Linked DNA regions of Homo sapiens: all the other regions are reported to be linked to region 3. Evidence: microRNA targets listed by miRTarBase, many of them from high-throughput screens and not tested one by one. Region 3 holds a microRNA gene; each other region holds the end of a gene's coding sequence.
What was found. Region 3 holds the annotated microRNA hsa-miR-1298-5p (UUCAUUCGGCUGUCCAGAUGUA, at 2,138-2,159, opposite strand). A microRNA usually pairs through its seed, bases 2 to 8, with sites in the 3' UTR of a target mRNA and lowers its output. Matches are read on the target gene's strand: a 7mer-m8 pairs with bases 2 to 8, a 7mer-A1 pairs with bases 2 to 7 and ends in A, and an 8mer does both.

Region 1: the mRNA of SYNPO is a reported target of hsa-miR-1298-5p. Seed matches in the 3' UTR shown: 7mer-A1 at 1,079-1,085.
Region 2: the mRNA of NR2E1 is a reported target of hsa-miR-1298-5p. Seed matches in the 3' UTR shown: 7mer-A1 at 1,592-1,598 and 7mer-A1 at 1,500-1,506.
Region 4: miRTarBase lists SLC30A9 as a target of hsa-miR-1298-5p. Seed matches in the 3' UTR shown: 7mer-A1 at 687-693 and 7mer-A1 at 1,289-1,295.

Annotation. Positions count from the first base shown.
Region 1 is chr5:150,656,874-150,659,873 of GRCh38, reverse strand. It overlaps SYNPO (synaptopodin), which reads right to left. Exons shown (of 3, transcript NM_007286.6): 3 at 667-3,000. The coding sequence ends at 2,787. Among named protein-coding and RNA genes, the nearest start is that of MYOZ3, 2.9 kb to the left of the region's middle.
Region 2 is chr6:108,186,758-108,190,002 of GRCh38, reverse strand. It overlaps NR2E1 (nuclear receptor subfamily 2 group E member 1), which reads right to left. Exons shown (of 9, transcript NM_003269.5): 9 at 1,198-2,702. The coding sequence ends at 2,540. Among named protein-coding and RNA genes, the nearest start is that of NR2E1, 22 kb to the right of the region's middle.
Region 3 is chrX:114,714,164-114,717,408 of GRCh38, reverse strand. It overlaps MIR1298 (microRNA 1298), which reads right to left and starts at 2,176; the gene lies at 2,065-2,176. The region is part of intron 2 of HTR2C (5-hydroxytryptamine receptor 2C); the gene reads right to left.
Region 4 is chr4:42,085,449-42,088,693 of GRCh38, forward strand. It overlaps SLC30A9 (solute carrier family 30 member 9), which reads left to right. Exons shown (of 18, transcript NM_006345.4): 18 at 634-3,245. The coding sequence ends at 678. Among named protein-coding and RNA genes, the nearest start is that of BEND4, 66 kb to the right of the region's middle.

The DNA.
Region 1 (3,000 bases), not on the chromosome of region 3:
TCAGAAGCCTAGATTCTGCTGTCCACCACCCTGACCTTAGCTTCCTGGCCCTCGGTGGGCCTGAGCTTCTAGAGAGGAAGAGTGAGGTGTGTTCCCAGGGCAAGCTTAGCCTCACCTGGGAGCAGGATCACAATCCCCTTCTCTGGCCAAAGGACACTCCTGCCAGGAGAGGATGCCTCATGGCCCGAGTCCTTGCCTCACTGGGGCTGCCTGGCTCAGACGGGACCTCTTACAGTGGCGCCTTTCCTGCCCTGGCACCCCCACCTGCCATGAGGAAACAGCCTCAGAGCACAGAGCCCTGACCCAGCTTGGCCCTGCCCACTCTGGTGATAGTGCTCTGTGGTCAGGGCCTGGACAATACCACCCTGAGACATTACCTAGACCCACTCTCCCCATTATACGGATGGGGAAGCTGAGGCCTAGAGAAGGAGTGGGCTCACCCAGGGTCACCCCGCTCGTCCATGACAGGACCAGGACTGCAGTCCAGGTACTTCTATGGCCTCAAGTTGTCCGTTGTTCCCATCTCTCCCCATGGCTGCTTCTTCCCAAGCTCCCATCCCATATGTCTCAAATATTCCCAGCCACCCAGAGTCCCATGGACTGCTCCATGCTTGGGGAGAAGGGAAGGACATCAGACACAGCTGAAAATGACACAGGAGGCAGAAGAATGCAGGAAGCATTTATTGAGGGCCAGAGCTGCATTCTACAAGAGGCAAGAGGCAGGACACAGGCAATCTCTAGTGGGTTAGAGGAGAGGTTGGGGAGAGGGCAGTGACAATGAGAGAACAGCCAGGCGCTGGCTTGGGAACTGCCGGTTTCTCAAGGCTGCCTCCTGCTAGTCCTCTGGGAAATGCAGGTAGAAATGGATCCTCTATGCTACTGCCTCAGCCAGAGGCCTGATGGTGTCCCTTCCCTGGGAGGGGCCCTTAGCCCCAGTCTCCTGTGCTACAAGGGACCCAGCAGCAGGTAGGGGCTTTGGTAAATATAGTCACTCATCATTAACTGAGTAAGAGCACCTTCTCATCTTCACAGCAGCAGGAGCATTCCTGAGGCCCAAGGAGCCCTCTAAGGTCACTCTTTCATTCCAAAGCACCCTGTCCCAACCCTATCTTCCATACTGACCTTAACTCCCTCCAGCCTCACTTGGGGGTTCCAGATCTAACATCACCCCGGTAAGTCCCAAACCCAAACTGTCCCTCACCTTTAGCAACATCCTGGTATCCTTTCACCTACATACGTTTGATCCTCAGCCAATTCCATACCCCCAGCTGATCCTGAAGCTAATATTCTGAACCTCTAGAAGGCTCTACCAGCCAACTCTGGAAACTACAGAACTCAGCCATATTCCTCCCTGAGTCCCCCCTGGGGACCTGAATCACAGCCACCAAGGTTTAGGGAACCAGTGAGGGCCTGCAGCCAGGCTCCCCCAGGTCACTGGGCACCAGGCACTAGCTAGGTCAGAGTGCACTGGGGAAGGGATGGGGCAGGATAATGTCTACTTTTCTGGGCACGATATGGACACTGGGACTGAGGTCTGACACTGAAGAAGGGGACATTTCCAAGGGGACCAGAAATACAGGCAGACCCTAACTTAACACCCTGCTCACGTACCCAAGCTCATCGGCCCCTAAATTCAAGCCCAACTAGCCCACCACCACCACCCACCCCCGACTTCCTAATATCATGGAATGCATTTCAAGACTGGAAGAGCCCTCAGGGGTCATCTGAGCCAATCCTGTCCCCTGCTAGAATCTCCTCTATGCATCCTGGCCATGCTTTTCATATTTCCCGTAACAAGTAACTCTTTGTCTCTCTCTTTCCCAATAAGCAACCCCAAACTGAGGGCAATCAGGTAAAGTCACATGGTAGCTCTGTATCTCTTCTCTCCCCAGTTCAGCTTTGAGCCCAGAACCTGCCATGAATGGGCCCAGAAGGAACAGATGAGCTGGAGGCCCAAGTCCTGGGCCTAAGGGAAATCACTGCCTTATAATTCTCTTATGGCTGCAGATAAGATGTCCTGGACAGTCTGAACTGGGATGGAGAAAGTAGCATGACAGGGACCCGGGGAGAATTTTCCTGCCTCTTCCCTCCAGAGGGGATAGTGGGACACCTTGAGCTGGCCTGGGAGACCTCTCTAAAGGTCATTGTGATAAAAATAGAGCTTGTCTGGGAAGGGATGGAAAACAGCTGCTCCTGCCTGGGACTTGGTGCCAGGGAGCCGGATGGTCAGGCCAGTGCCTGGACATGCGACACAGGCCTAGGACCTTCTGAACACACCCCGCTTGCCAGACTCCAGACAGCAGAGCCAGGAGGGGAGGGACGAGTATGGAACCCTGAAGGTAGCAAGTCCAGGGGTCCATATACACACTGCCCCGCCTCATCCAAGGCACTAACTAGTGTGTGTGTGTGTGTGTGTGTGTGTGTGTGTGTGTGTGTGTGTGAGAGAGAGAGAGAGAGAAAGAGAGAGTGTGTGTGCATCGGTGTGTGTACTGATGGGAAGGGGAATTTTGACGTTTGTGGATTGCCTTGGCCAAAGCCACCATTAAACAGATGGGAAAGCTGAGGGTCAAACAAGGAAGGGTCTTACCCAGGGTCACACAACAGCTGAATGAGAGCAAGGGCTAGAACTCAAGCTTGCGTCCCTAACCCATCCCCAACCCCAGAGCTCTCCTCTGCTGACCCCTCATCTCTGGGGCTGCCCAAAGAGGCCAGACCCTTTGGGTCCCCCAGGTCTAATGAGCCTTCTTCTGGCTCTGCCCTCCCGGGGTGGGGTCGGGGGTGGGGCTCTAGGTGGTGCAGGAGGCCTCGGCGGGGAGGCTGCCACGCTTGAGCCGAAGGCTGCCATTCCACCCGCGGGGACAGATATTGTAGCCCAGGATGCCTGGAGACTTAGCCCCGGAGTCCTCGGAGTCGAGGGACACGTCGGAGTCCGTGGGCGAGCGGCGGTAGAGGAAGGGCCTGGGAGGCGCGGGCAGCGGGCTCCGGGGACTGGTGCAGGAC
Region 2 (3,245 bases), not on the chromosome of region 3:
TGTTATTCAGTATTATTGAAGGAAAACTTGACTGATACACAGATGAACAGCCTTGGACCCATCACTCAGCTTTACTAAATCTTGTCATTCATCTCATATTTGTTTGAGATTTTTTTCTTATGAAATTAACCATTACAGAAACATTTGAGGGTCCTGTTATACCCTTCACCCATCCCATCTCTTCTTGGAAGTAGCCACTATCCAGCAGTTAGTGTTTATAATACTCATGCCTGTTTTAAATGTTTCCTATACATTTATATGCCCATAAACATTGTCTAGTATTGTTCTGTAGGTTGTAAAACTTTATATAAATGATACCAAGCTGTATGTGCCCTCTGCAATTTACTTTCCCCATAACACACACAAACACACTGTATTTCAGATTTACCCATGTTGATACATTAGCTCTAGCCATTCACTTTGCCTACGGTAACATTGTCTGTATTCACCACAATGTACCTATTATCTGTCAATGGATACTAAAGTTGTTAAATACGAACAGTGTTGCAAGGGACATTCTTACACAGTCTTTGAGTACTGTGCTTTTCTTTAAGACCAATTCTCATTCTCCGTAGAATAAGTAGACAAGAAGTGCACAGCTGATTGAAATTTCACATATACGGTCCGCAAGACCATTTTAGCAAGAGCAGAGGCACAAGCATCTCTTGCTGGAGCTGCCACCCAAAAGGAGTCTACAGTGCCTGTGGCCTTGGGCACCTCTGATGGCCTTTGCTTGTGGGACCGGTGCCTTAAGACTTGCTGGGAACATCTGGATGACATTTCTACTGCTCCCTCCACATCTTACTCACCATATGAACTTTATCATACTTTATCTTTTTGATCATTAAATGATTTCAAGTGACTGGTCAGGATTGAAATGTTGGCAAGAGAGTTAGAAACAGAGGAAGGAATGAAGACTCTGTTAATCGGCCTCCTTCCTCCTCACACAGCAATTTTTCTAACAGATGCAATTACATTTGAGAGCTGTAGAGAACAGAATCTTACGTTTTATTTCTTTATTCATCATTTTCCAAATGGTATTCACTGTAAGAAGGAAATTGCCTTTGTAGTTCAGTTCTGCAGGCTCTGTGCTGGAGTGCTCCGAGCTTCAGTTTTAACACCAGCTGCTGCCCCTACCTTGTTTCTGGTGGGTGAGAACCAGCCAGGGAGGGAGGGTAAGAAATCAGAAAGAGTTCATTTAAATTCAATATATTTTTATTCTTTGTAAATACAATGAGTACAACCTTTTAACTTCACAAATCAGTTAATTCACTTTGTACAAGAAAAGTTTTACTCATCCTATGATAGTCCAAGTGCTGAATTTTTTTTCCTCAGTGCTAGTACCTAATAAATCAAAATGTGAAAAGTACAGCAGCTATTTAAAAATGTTTGTTTCTACATTTCCATAAGTATAGAGTCATACCAAAGGAGCAGCTTAAAGTGTAGGACGGTGTGTGTGTGTGTGTGTGTGTGTGTGTGTGTGTGTGTGTGTGTGTGTGTTCATTCAAGGCTTTACTAGAAACCAGTTTTCGGAAAGGCATTGAAGAGTCTCAGGCTGTTAGCAATGGATCAGTCAAGAACCCTTTTAGCATTCATTCATCTCCTTGAAGTTCCTTCTGCAATTACGTCCATATTCGTTTCCTGTCTGGTGTGACTTGCTGCACCACGAGTTTGGACCCCCACTGCCTTTGGTTTCAGCACTATGTTAACGGGACAGCAATCTACCTCACTCAATCACTCATCTCCACTTTATTTGGTTTTGCTGTTTTTATTCATCCTCCCTTGACTTATGTTCTTTTAGTAAAGCTCTTCTCTTTTTGACATGTTATCCAACCTGAAGTCCTGGTGAGAATCTCATTTTGTCCATCAATTCCTTTGACAAGGTTGCCTGGCCTATGGTATTAAAAAAGAAGAAGAAAGAACAAAAGAAAGAGAAAGAAAAGAAAAAAGAAGATAGAGAAAAAGCAAATCACATGGCATAAGCTACTTTTCACTTATTAACTCAGTTCTGAAGGCCACTTAATAATGTATTACAATAGAGGGGAAACTTTTGATAACACTTTTAATTTAAAACCTACCATTATTTTTAAAATAAATGCTCCAACATAACGTAGTTTTGAAGGCCGCAGTACGATGTTATACACAGAGCTATATTTGGTTACCAAACTTTGTATGCTAAAAAGGAAGAGAAAGCACTACTTATGTTTCAGCTTTTGATCGTTCAGCCTGATCTTCCAGGTAAGAGGCAGAATGGCACGGCCTGTGGCAACCCCCAGTTTGCCCCCTCCCAGGGCATGGCAGCAGTGAGTTTTCAGTGCAGGCGGTCCTGTTGCACCCCTCTCCTTCCCACCCGCCCTATCCTGGTCAGGGCGGCAGGTCATAGCTACTGGAATGCTTTGTGTCAATTGGCATTTTTTTCCTGAAGGCTACACATTCCCCGGTATATGCTTCCTGAAGGGTTTGTTAGTTGAGGCTTGTTCTCCATGGGTTGAAGTTCATCTGATACTGTCCCATCCTGAAAAGTGGGTATCTTGTGAGCTTAGATATCACTGGATTTGTACATATCTGAAAGCAGTCTTGTAATTGGCACATTGCCGATGGTTTTTTTGAAAAACACTTCTTCTATAGTTGATGGGCTAATAGAACGTAAAGCTGGCAAAAGCAACAGGAGTTTTCCAAAGCGACAGGGTTGAGTGGGATATCTGGAATGTGAGAAGCCATGAAAACAAGGTCAGAGGCCATTACTTATGGAAACTAACGTCTTACACTTGAACACACATCATCTCCAGCATTGCTGATCTAGGTCTCTTGAATAACACAGTATCCCTGCAGCAAAGTTCTGGACAGGCACTGTTGTCCCCGTTTTGCAGGTAGACTACTTGAGGCAGGGAGACCATAAATGATGCTGCCAAAATCACACGGACACCCTCTCTACATTAACAAATGGATTGCATTTTGTTTGGGAAAAAAAAAGAAATTTAAGAAGCATAATACTAATTTTAAGCCAAATAATAAATTTAAGGTTTCCATTATAGAAAACGACCAGGGCATTGAGGATAAGGCTAGCAACAGAACCCATGTTTTCTAATTCTAAGGACTCCTCAAGGCTATTTCCCTCAAATAAAATGGCTTCTTTTTCTAAGCAATTCTCCAAATTATTATTCAGGCATTATACTTAGTCTCTCTCAGGAATAATTCCATCCTTATTACACTGCAAATTAAAGACTAAGTTCTGTTGGGTGGCA
Region 3 (3,245 bases):
TAAATTTCACACTAAATTTTTTTAAATTGTAGAATAGACCATGTGCGATGGCTCACGCCTATAATCCCAGCACTTTGGGAGGCCGGAGTGGGTGGATTGCTTGAGCTCAGGAGTTCAAGACCAGCCTGGACAAAATGGCAAAACCCCATGTCTACAAAAAATACAAAAAATTAGCCAGATGTGGTGGCGTGTGCCTCTGGTCCTAGCTACTTGAGAGGCTGAGGTGGGAGGATCCCTTGAACTCAGGTGGTCGAGGCTGCAGTGAGCCCTGATCACATCATTCTACTCCAGCTAGGGCAACAGACCCTGTCTCAAAAAAAAAAGAAATTGTAGAATATAGTCAACTAGATCACTTCTGTCTCACTTTTTATAACAAAGCATTTAAAAATTGAATAAATAATAATACATATAGAAGTTTGATTTTTATCAATTTTCAGTGTTCAGAAATTATGACTCATAATTCAAATATTATCCCTCTAGTTATTATACCCAGTGAGCTTTTAGCAGATGTCTAAATCAAAAATGAATTAGCCATAAATGTTCAGATTAGTCCTGGGAAGATTATATTAATGTGGCACAGATTTACAATAATTTTGGGGGAGCTCATTTAATTCAAAAATTATCCTTAGGACTAATGAATATTGTAGGAAGTTTTCCTTTCAACTTCAAATGTACTCTAGCGATTTTCTAATAAATCATACATTTGTCATACTAAAAACTCACCTTTGCTAATTATAGTCAAATCAGATAATTTTTATTATTTTGATAGAAAGTTTTTCAGTTATTATCATCAATGAAATTAAAGACTACTCTTCCACCAGTGATTATTCAATTTGAATGCAAGTCTAGGCTCATTACTTTTATTCCCTCTCCTCCAAGATAATGTTAAGTGGTTATTTAAATAGATTTACCTGTTCCTCCTATGCTTGGAATTCAAATGGAAAAAAAAATTTTTTTCTCCTCATTTGTATTTACTAAATACCTCTGCTTGTGTTTGACATGTTCCATGAGCGTGATTATTGTTAAATTATGTGCGAATTCACACAACAGTTAACTCAAAATCTACAGCATATAAAATTATGTTTTTCACAGCTAGACCTATTCCATTTACATAAAATAATACTTTAAAAACATACACTTCCCAATTGATAGACTTAAAGTAGCTATTGCAAATCACTCTATGATGGTAGTAACAGACATGGAGAGAATTTGCCTTAGTGGGCAGAATGCCCAGCAATTTGAAACTGCTTTCTCCATAGGTGGTAGCAGAACTATCTGGGAATTATCTCAGTGTTAGTATGCACATAGCACAACAAACTGAAGGTTTTCAAAGAGCAGAGCTAATGGAGCAAACCATATGCTAAATATCTGTGTTGGAGACCAACTCCAACCGATCTGCAGGACCAAAAGCTGTATAATAGTAGTTTCATATATTCAAATATTTATCGATTGCTTATTACATGCCAGGCACTATGCCAGATGCTGGGCATGTAGTAGTAAACAAGGTAAACCAGGCCCCTGCTCCAATGGAGCTTACATTCTAGCTGGAGATACAGAAAATAAACATTTAAACAAAGATGTAGGATAATTTCAAATCGTGATAATTGCTATGAATAAAATGAAATTGCATCATGAGATAAAGAGTGATTGGGGTAAATACATTAGATGGATCCATGTACATAGCCATAGCTTGAGGTTAGATATCTTTTAAATATTGTAATATACAAATAATATTTGCCAGCATTTGCCAGCTACTCTCCATCACAGTATAAAATAGTTATTTTATACCGGTGAGTTAAGTACACGACAAGTGTCACTGATGGGAGCAGATCAAAATTTTCTGTTAATTTGATTTTAATTTTGCAAGCTAGAAAAACAAATCCTCTTTATCTTTTGTCAAGACACTTAAAAATCAATTTAGTTGCATACTAAAATACATTCCCACTTACATTTACAATGGTGTCTCTTCACCCACAAGCAATTCCTACTTCCCATTTCATTAGATTAAGAGATCACAAACTTTTCACTTTATAACAGGCTCTTCTGGTTGTGGAGGGTTCCAGCTGAGTCATGAAAAGTGAAAAGTTCAGTCAGTTGCCCAGATGTATTTATTGCCAAATAACACAGGGTACTTGGATACATCTGGACAGCCGAATGAACTCTTAACTCCTCGTCTCTCCAACAGCTCTTCCTTCTCGGCTTCAAGACATCCTATATAAAGGGGAAAGAAACAAACAAAAAGCTACTTCAAAGTTGAAGGGTCAGTTTCTGGTTTTGCTGTCTCATCTGGAAAAAAGAAGTGACTTCTGCTATTGTTTTATAACTTATTGATATAAAATGTATACAACTCATAAAATGTAGAAATAGCTAGAAGTACCAGATGAATCTTGTTAAATTCAAATATGTCATGAATACAGAAAACTGAGACAACAAAAATTAATTTGCATAATGAATAATTTATATAATGTATAATTCATTCTAGTATCATTCAACACCCTAGCCGTTAAATATGTGTGATTAGCATAAAGGACATTAGGCTGGGCAGTAGGAGACATGAGTTCTAGTCTTGACTCTTACCACTTCTTGATGTGTCACTCAAACTTTTTGAGCCTCACTGTTTTCATCCATGACACAGAAGTTGCAATAGAGGACCTCTATCCCTTTTTGCTCTGAAATGCTGTGAATTGGGTTTTCTTGCTAAATTGTTGACATTATTCTACGCTGTTTTACAAACAAGATACTTCTAAATAGCTGAGTTTGGTTACAATTAAATCTTACTTGTTATTGCTAATTAAATATAAAACATAGCATTCACCTGACAAAGCCTTTTGTTTGAAAGGAATGCGAAAGTGACTTTTAACTTGAGTATTCTCATAACTCAGTCTACACATCCCACAAATTAATATGTAGGTATTCTGTACCATGCCTTTATCTACTTCCTTAAATGAATCCTTAAATACATTTCTCATTCTTAAAGAGTTAGGAGACCACACAGACTCATAAAAATTTTAAACAAAATTGTTTATTGGTGATTTTATTTTAAAAAATCTTCTGCCTAGAATATTTTACAGAAAAGTGAAGTATAAGAAGTAATGGCCAGTTTTGTAGCTATCTAAAGCTTGGCTTCTACTTTAGTGGTTTAATTCTCAGGTAGAATCTGTTTATGGTTTTGTGTACTCTTCTACCATTTTGTTTATTTATGGAGAAAAATAGTACTTCAGTTTGACAACTTTGAAAATAGTGTT
Region 4 (3,245 bases), not on the chromosome of region 3:
GAAATAGTAATTAGGTTATGAGGCTTTTAAAACACACATACATGTGCTCATGTAACACAGTACTTGATACATGAGTGAGTAAGCAATAAATGTTAACTTTTTATTATTAGCTCTAATACTTTAACTTGTAGATGATTACTGCTATGCTGGTCTCCCTAGCTAAACTGAGTCACTCAGGGTCAGGAACAGAGTCTTATTTAATAATCATAGCTCTGTTTTCTAGCACAGGGCCCGGCCCAAGAATATATGGATTGTTGCTAAAGTATATAAAATGAGTGGTTGTCAATTTACTCTTTTTGATTATTATTGTTTTGCAGTGATTTTGTTTTCACCACACAAAAATGTGTATTTCCAGTGCTTCGCAATGCTTGGCATGTACTAGATCCTTAATGCACTTTTGTATTAACAAACACATGAACAAACTTAGGAATGTGATACTACTTATTGTACTGTTTATAGTATGTCTATTTACCTATTGATCTTACTTTTTTTCTTATGCAACTATTTCTCTCATTAGTATGCTATAGTGAAATAGTTTGCAAATGTTTTCATTGGCTCTAATGACCAAAAGGAATAAAAAGAAACAAGATTTTATTTTGCTACAAATAATGTGGTGGTGATTTTTCTTTCCAGAAACGAAATCCTGAAGTTCGACATGTAGATTTGGAGATACTGTGAGTTTGATGGAATGAATCACCTGGGTGGGGACCTTGGAAACAAGTTTGTCCGTCCACTCTACAAAGTTTCCTCCTCTCCTACACTGAAAGACTCAGTGCCATGCAGAAGCCTTTTTTTTAAGATGAAGGAAATATTTTATGTAAAGAGCAACTCAGCAGGACACAGAACTAAAACTACTACTTACATCTAACAGACACACTACAAGTTGAATCAATTTGAAAATCATGTTTTTATGCTTCCATAGGGAACATTTTGGTTATTTAAATTGTTCATAATGTCCCATATTTCACCTGTTCAGTGTATACTGTACTTTGCAATCATCTTTCCTTTTTTCACATTGGTAAAAATAAGTGGCATCCATAGGATCATGATTTTTAATTTGTTGCCTCTGAAGATTTCACTCCATCAAGATCTGCCAATCTTCAATATTCTGGCTAAATCTTGGTATGTGGTTTTTAAACAGTCACTCCGTTTCAAAGTCTGTCTTTCCTTATAGAATGTGGAAATTATTTCTCCATACCTTGTGATTTTGACCTGAGTGCTAAGAGAATCACTCTCCTTACCTAGTTATCTACAAATGTTCATTCCAGAAATGTTTAGTTACTGAATTGAATGAAGACATCTCAGTACACTCTTTTAGGTCATAGTAGTTGCCATTTTGTAAAATTTCTTTTTTCTTCTTTGCTTTTTTCCCCTTATTTGGTTTAATTTTTCTAATGTTAGGAGATATAGTCCTAGATATTTCCATGGGCCAGTGTGATGACTTTTTTTTAAATGAGGTTCAGTACCATAATGTTTATTTACTGGAAGATAATGCATTTATAAGCATTTTAAAATTCTGTAAAGTGGGTTAGAAATATTTATAATTTTACAGGCAGGACAGCATTTGACTTTTATTTAAAAGGCGGCACTACTTATGTAAATCTGAGCTGTGGGATATTTCTTGCTTTAAGAGAGAGACAGAATCTCTCACTGAAACTCATGGTCATGATTTTGTATAATATAGTTCATACTGTGTCTGTGAGTTTCTTCAGTTACAAATGGGCATTTAGTATAGTTATATTGACTATAACATGTAAGTAAATAGCTTTCTACTGACCCTAAGTTATCAAGGTGGAAAAAAAACATGCAATTCAGTAATTGAAAATGTGGTGAAAAGCTGCAGCTGTCATCATCAAAACAACTCATAACATACTTTAAAATGTTCAGGTAGCAGTGAGCATTGTTCATATGAGAATGGCGGCTGGGTGATCTCTTTGCTGAATTAATGAGTTCTTAACATGTGGACCCAACTGCCTGTGTGAGATCTGTGTCTTAAAACTTACTGGAATGGAAATCTATGAATTATTGCAAATTGTAATGCTGGAAACAAAAAATAAATCCTTGGTTAAAGGGTTTGTAATGGTGATTTTTGACCCAGAAATCTCATTTACTGGAAAATTGTGAGACTTTACGTTGGTGTATTTTTCTTTTTTTTTTTTTTACTATTACAGAGTATTTTGCATGCTGTACATTTTAAGTGAAATAACATTCCAGTTTTATTTTTAAGATAGAAAATTGTTATATATATATATAATTTGATACTCTATTCTTACAGTTTCAAATTCCTTATCCCTTCTTTACAAAAAAAACTTTTTTTTTACCTGTTATGATTTATTCTATACTTTTTTCTTCTTCCTTCCCCTTTCCCACTTGCCATTTATTACTTCATGTCATTGCCATATGAGAAAGTACCAAATTATATCCAGTTTCCTCCTAGTGATATTACTCTGAAAAATTTCACAAAGCCAGACAAGAATAATTACTCATTTTTTTTCCCAAGACGACCCTCAAAGTTAATGTGCAGCAGGTATTCCAAATGGTAATTTTTTTTTTTTAGGATTCCCTAATAAAAAAAAAAAAAATTCTGATATTTCTTTTTAAATCTGATTTTGGTTGAGGTCATACCATTCTTAAATAATAATTGAAGGTTTATGTTGCCATCTTTTCTAATTCTGTTTTGCACTGATAAACTTACATAAAGTTTGTTTATGTAAAATAAGACATAAAGGAGTACAACATATCAAGGAATTTGAGTATTTATGTGGAATCAGGAAATTTTTCTAGAGTCACTGAATTTTCAAATCAGAGAATTTGGGCTGGATATGGTGGCTTATGCCTGTAATCCCAGCACTTTGGGAGGCCGAGGCAGGAGGATTGCTTGAGCTCAGGAGGTCAAGACCAGCCTGGGCAACACAGCGAGACCTCATCTCTACTAAAAAAAGTTAGCCGGGTGTGGTGGTGCTCACCTGTGTTAGTCCATTCTCACACTGCTATAAAGAAATACCTGAGACTGAGTAATCAAAAAAAGAGCTTTAATTGGCTCATGGTTCTGCAGACTGAACAGGAAACATAGCAGCTTCTGCTTCTGGGGAGGCCTCGGGAAACTTCATTCATGGCAGAATACGAAGGGGAAGCAGTCATAGCCAGAGGAAGAGCAAGAGGCGGGGATTGGGGGTAGGTGCCACACTCTTGTAAACAACCAGATCTCATGAGAACTCACTATACAGTACCAAGAGGGGAAGGTG